2 separate regions of the Homo sapiens genome follow, and region 1 is linked to region 2. Evidence: fine-mapped expression QTL. A gene starts in region 2. The other region holds a variant in brackets. All regions are shown on one strand. Distances are from middle to middle. Region 1 overlaps SLC25A24 (solute carrier family 25 member 24). Region 2 holds the start of SLC25A24 (solute carrier family 25 member 24).

Region 1 (2,912 bases), 48 kb after region 2:
GTGTTTTGTTCTTGAGCAAGAGAATACTCTTGAGAAGTTTACGAAGTCCAGTGGTATCCTTTTCTTTGCCTAGGAAATAGAGAAGCAAAAAAAAAAAAAAAATTAAAGAAAATCTAGTCTCCAGGATTTTAATTAGAACCTATCCTTGGGAAGGCTATTTTCCTTATATGAAGGTTTGAAGATTCAAATCATGATTATTAAGGGCTAATGTTTGAGATACCCTTAGGTTATTCTGACCACATACTTGGATTTTATGATAGGAAAGCCACAGCCTAAAATAAATAAATACTCAATGCAGTTATTTCAGTATGCAAGAAGTTTGGTATTTTTGAAAAAGTCCATGGGTATTGCAAGCAAATATGCACATTTTGCTTTATGCCATTTGTCAGATTCTTACCTTGGATACCACCAACAGGCATCCTCTGCTTCTGTCCACCCAAGCTCCTTCCTGAGACCTCTTTATAGTATTGTGATTTCTGCACACTAACTTTCTTAGACATGAAGAGAAAGCTGTCTACACAGTGTGGTGTAGTGTTCTTATGGGCTCTGGACCTATGGTGCTGTTTTCTCTCCTCCTGCTGAAGGTCCATTCATCCCTCGGGGCTCTCTAAAAGCCACCTTCCTGTGACAAGCATATACTAAGCATCTCAATCAAAGCCAGTTCCTCCCCTGTCCAGCCTCCCTCGAGTGCTGAATTGCAGAATATCCCATTTTTCATTGGATGATGGAAAACCCATTGTTTTCCCAGTGGATTGTAAATTACTTCGGGGTAAATAGGCTGTATATATTCTCAAATTTCCCAGAGTATGTAACTAGGTCACTTTTAGATTCAGATAGATTTTGTTCCTTGAATAGCTAGTACTTTAGGAAACTAAGAAAAAGATCTTTTCAACCTGGTATGTAGCTCTGTCAAACACATCATCAGTATGGGGTAAACCTGTGTTCTCTGTGGGTTGTCATTACCATAGTAGTGTCATTGTATCATTGACAGTGTAATAGTGTGGGGTAGTGTTCTTGTGGTTTCAGCTGCCATCTCTGTACTGACTGCTTTCCACTCCAACATCTTCCTCTTTATCTCAACACTGTAGGTCTACCTGTGTACTGTGTGTTTCAGCATCTCTGCTTGCATGACCCAGGAGTGCCTCCCACTCAATATGGCCACCATGCATGGTCATCTTTCTGCTACTCCCTGTCTCCTGACCCTGCTCCAGCAACACAGACAGACACCCTTCCTCTTTCTATATGTCATATGGTGGGAAATGCC[C/G]TTTAGTACTTACTCAGGAGTTAGTTCCTCTGGGAAGCCTTCTGTTCTAGTTTCCTTTTGTTACAGCACTTTCACATTGAATTCTGACGTTCTCTGTACTTATCTGCTTTGTGAGACTGTGAGCTTCCTTAGGCAGTAGCTACTTGTATTCTTAGCACCTTGCCCAGTGCCAGGAAACCCTTATTAAGTAAATGAAAAGACAGAACTGACAGACTGGAATTAGAGCTCAAGCTTGCCTCAATCTCAAGCCATTAAGATGAAGGGGAGCCGGGCGTGGTGGCTCACGCCTCTAATCCCAGCACTTTAGGAGGTAGTTTGCTTGAGCCCAGGAGTTCAAGACCAGCCTGGGCAACGTGGCAAAACCCCATTTCTACAAAAAATATAAAAATTAGTTGGGCGTGGGGGTGTGTGCCTGTACTCAGGATGCTGAGGTGGGAGGATCACTTGAGCTCGAGAGGCAGAGGTTGCAGTGAGCTGGGATCACACCATTGCAATCTAGCCTGGGTGATAGAATGAGACCTTGTCTCAAAAAAAAAATAAATAAATAAATAAAGGGGAAGATAAGGATTGGAAACAGAAGGAGCAGCATGTGGACAGAAATGTAGGCACAAGAAGGCATCACTCACTGAAGAGACTGAAGGTGGTTCACTGTGCCTCAAGACTGGTGGAGTGTGTTTCCGGAAAGATAATGATGAAAGAGCTGGACAGATAAACAGGGGCCAAATGTAATAGGAGTCTGGATTTTATTCTGAATATGGTAGGGGCTATTGTAGCATCTTATATAGGGAAGTGAAATGAGTACATTCACATTTAAGGAATATCAACCTGAAAAAAGAGTGGAGACATTGTTGGGGGAGAGTGAGGTAGACTAGAGGCAGGGAGAATATTTAAATAATTGAGGTAAGAAATGATGAACACCAGTATAAGGTGATGTCTTTAAGGAATGGAGAAGGGAATGAACTGAGAAATATTTTGGAAGTAGAATCAACAGAACTCACTGACTGACTGGATATGGAGGTGAGAAAGAGAAGAGTCAAGAATGATATTCTAATTTCTAACTTGAGTGACTGCATTCAAAGAGAATACAATATCAGGTTCCATTTTGTGCATGCTGAGTTTGAGATGTGTGGGACATGTACAGGGAGCTGTCCAGTAAGCAATTGGGTATATCAGCTAGCCATTAAGAGAGAGATCTTTGATAGAGAGGTTGTTGCTGAGTTGAGCCATTGGAATGGGCAGGATCACTCAAGAAGAGCTTATAAATGAGAAGAATTCTAGGAATAAGTCCAAAGGGAGAAGTAAAAGAAGAAACTTGCAAAGGACACTGAGAAGAAATAGCTCGAGGGATGGGAGAAAATCCAGAGAGAGGGATGGCATAGGAGTCAGTGGAAGGAAACGGTTTCATGGGGGTCAGTACTACTGGGTAGTGAATATAATAAGAATATCTTTTAGGATTTCTCAACCCAGAGATAGGTAAGCTTAGTATAAATGCTTCTGTGAAGTAATGAAATGAGAAACCATGCTGAAATGAGCTTAAAGTGAATGGGAGGTGAAGAAACTTGGACAGTAGAGACACATTTTTAGGGAGTTTGACAGTGAAGAGAAGGAAACTAGAAGAGGGAGAGGGTGATAGATAAGAAAGATGTTG
Region 2 (2,912 bases):
AGTTTTGCCTTTTCCAGAATGTCATTGTTGACAGGTATCAGTAATTCATTCCTTTTTATTGCTAATTACTATCTCACTGTATGAATGCAACACAGGTTGTTTACCAGTTCACCCGTTAAAGAACATTTTGTTTCTGCGCTTGACAGTTATGAATAGAACTGCTATAAACCCTCAAGTAAAAGTTTTGGTGTGAAGATAATTTTCTCAGCAAAAACGCTGACAGGTAATTTTTCTAAGTATTACTTTTTTAAAAAAGTAAAATAGCCTGTAGCCCCAGCTACTCAGGAGGCTGAGGCAGGAGAATAGCTTGAACCCAGGAGGCGGAGGTTGCAGTGAGTTGAGATTGTGCCACTGCATTCCAGCCTGGGCGACAGAGCTAGACTGTCTCAAAGAAAAAAAAAAAAAAAAAAGAAATAAATAAAAAGTAAAATGAAAGCATGTAAGTGTAAGATGACTAGTTCAAGCAACCTCTCTTCAAGTACAGAGTATTCAGAGTAGAGATTAAAAGAGGTTTTCAAGGACAGAGAAAATTTGAAGTTTGAAGGCAGTTCCAAAGGAAGGCAATGATTCTTAATAAGACTGGAAGTTGGAAGTAATATAAAAAGATAAATCAGTTTCAAGATGATTTTACTAAGCAGGCAGCCCTTAATTTACAAATTCTAGATTCATACATATCTTAAACATACAAAATGATATGAGGAGAGGTAAGTTCAGGGTCTGAGTTCCTGGCTGTTGTTGGAACTGATTTCTGTGTAGTGATTCAGAAGATGTGAGACACCCTAATTTACAAGTACAGAGGTATCTTCTTTTCTGCAAACAGCAGTACAACAATAGTTCCTCTTACGCAGCTGTGAATGAACAGGATTATTACAATTAATGATATCTCATTTGATTGGCGCCTTAGAGAATTAAGACCTTTCACACCTAATATACAACTTTGTTGTGAAGGCAGATATTTATATTCTCATTTTACTGATGAGAGACTACCCGGAGACGCTATGTCACACCTGAAGGATTAGGTACTTTCTCTGTTAAGTCCAATGTTCCTTCCGTTATTCCATGCTAGGCAGTAATAAGTTCTGTCTTGCCTGAGTAATAAGCTCCAAACCTCGGAACTGCACCCATCTTGAGAAGGAGGAGGGCGCTGTGGTTTTTTCTGATAAGTGCAGCTGGCAGACACTCTATACGCTTAATCACGGGCAAATCCTAGCTAAGCTGCCTACCAAACTAGTCCTTCTTTTCCCCGTTGCCCACGCAGATGGCTGTTGATCTTTTCTGCAACAAATCCAGGAGTTTCTCCTTTTTGTTTTATAATTGCTCCAATAGATGCTTTAGGATTTAACTCTCTGCTTTTTAAAGCAGAATCGCCATCCCAGGTGTGCAACCACGAAAAAATTAGACATCCGTGAGAGACAATGCCCTCCATGGCCCAGTTTCCAGGCAGAGAGAAGCAGCTCTGGGCTGACCGCCAAGGCTCCGGCCCGAGAGGGTCTTTAAGTGGAGTAACCAGTCTTCAAGACCCCGCTCCCAAGCCACCGACGCGCTGACGCTGCAGCCCTGGACCTGCTGGGGGCCTCTTCCTCGGACCCGCATGCTGACAGCGGGACTGGCAACTGGGCAGAGGTCGACCCCGGGTCCGCACAGCACCTCCCGAGACCCAGCTCCCAGCTCCCTCACTTCCGGCTCTCTGGAGGCGGGCCCGGCCAGTGCCGCCGAGGCCAGCGCGGCGAGCTCCTCCCCAGCAGCGGCGGGACGGCCACACCCTGCGCTCCGCGCGGGCTCGGGTGGGGTCTCCGCTCCTGCGCCCTGCGCCCTGCGCGCCGCAGCCGCAACCCCGACGGCGCCCCAAACGCTGTTGCGCCGCGCGCCCCGCCCAGCCCGGCCTCGCGCTGGTCCCGGTCTCGCCCCGCAGCCCTCGATCTCCCGTGACTTCCTCGGCCAGGCCGCCTGCGCCTCTGGGACCATGTTGCGCTGGCTGCGGGACTTCGTGCTGCCCACCGCGGCCTGCCAGGACGCGGAGCAGCCGACGCGCTACGAGACCCTCTTCCAGGCACTGGACCGCAATGGGGACGGAGTGGTGGACATCGGCGAGCTGCAGGAGGGGCTCAGGAACCTGGGCATCCCTCTGGGCCAGGACGCCGAGGAGGTGGGTCGCCGCCGGGGCGCCGCCTGAGCGTAGGGAGGGCTGCGGGCGCTGGGGACACTGCGAGGACCGAGGAGGGCGGCGGCTTGAGGCGTTGCCAGGAGAGGAAGGAGGAACTGTGGCGCCCAGCGCTCCGGTGGCTTCAGAAACTCGGGCGTGGGGCCGCGACCGGCGACCCCGGTAACAGAAGTGGGTCATAATACGAAAGTCTACTGGTATTTGTCCAGATAAAATGAGTGTTGTGGACACTCTGGCCCACGGGCACTGTTAAATTTTTAAGACACTTTTGTCCTGAATCCATCCCAGGTTCTTTGTTTTCTGTTTTAATACCTTGCAGACATGTAATCCGTTTTAGCTGTCAGACTTCAGTGGGTCCCAAGTTTTGTATAAAGGCGCACACATTCGATCTCTTTCGAAGCTGCTTTGTTACAGCAGCTATGTGTATTGTCTACTGTTTGAAAACTGTTTGAAAACCAATCGCGTGTTTCCCCCACTTCCTGTTGAGAAGGAATGGCGGCATTCCATTGTTTAAGACATTCCTAGGTTAATGCCCTAGGTACATAAATTGATCTGAAGGGTTGACTTGACCTGCGACTGAGCAATTTCATTTTCTCTGAGTCATCTTAACTGTGCCCCTGAACTTCTGCCCCTTTAGTAGGGTGGAGATATGTGGAACTTCTCCAACCCTGTTGAAGCGTTCCCTGACACTGGCATTCTCTTATCCAAAGAGGGAAAGTGATTAGGTTACTATGAGGGCCAACAACTGTTA

The links.
Region 1: its variant is fine-mapped to the expression of SLC25A24 in monocytes after R848 (Quach 2016, PIP 0.95).

Annotation. Positions count from the first base shown.
Region 1 is chr1:108,151,264-108,154,175 of GRCh38, reverse strand. The region is part of intron 6 of SLC25A24 (solute carrier family 25 member 24); the gene reads left to right. Among named protein-coding and RNA genes, the nearest start is that of SLC25A24, 48 kb to the left of the region's middle. The variant C/G (reference allele first, on the strand shown) is at 1,265.
Region 2 is chr1:108,199,190-108,202,101 of GRCh38, reverse strand. It overlaps SLC25A24 (solute carrier family 25 member 24), which reads left to right and starts at 1,759. Exons shown (of 10, transcript NM_013386.5): 1 at 1,759-2,146. The coding sequence starts at 1,964. RefSeq lists an enhancer at 1,541-1,835 and a silencer at 1,636-1,975.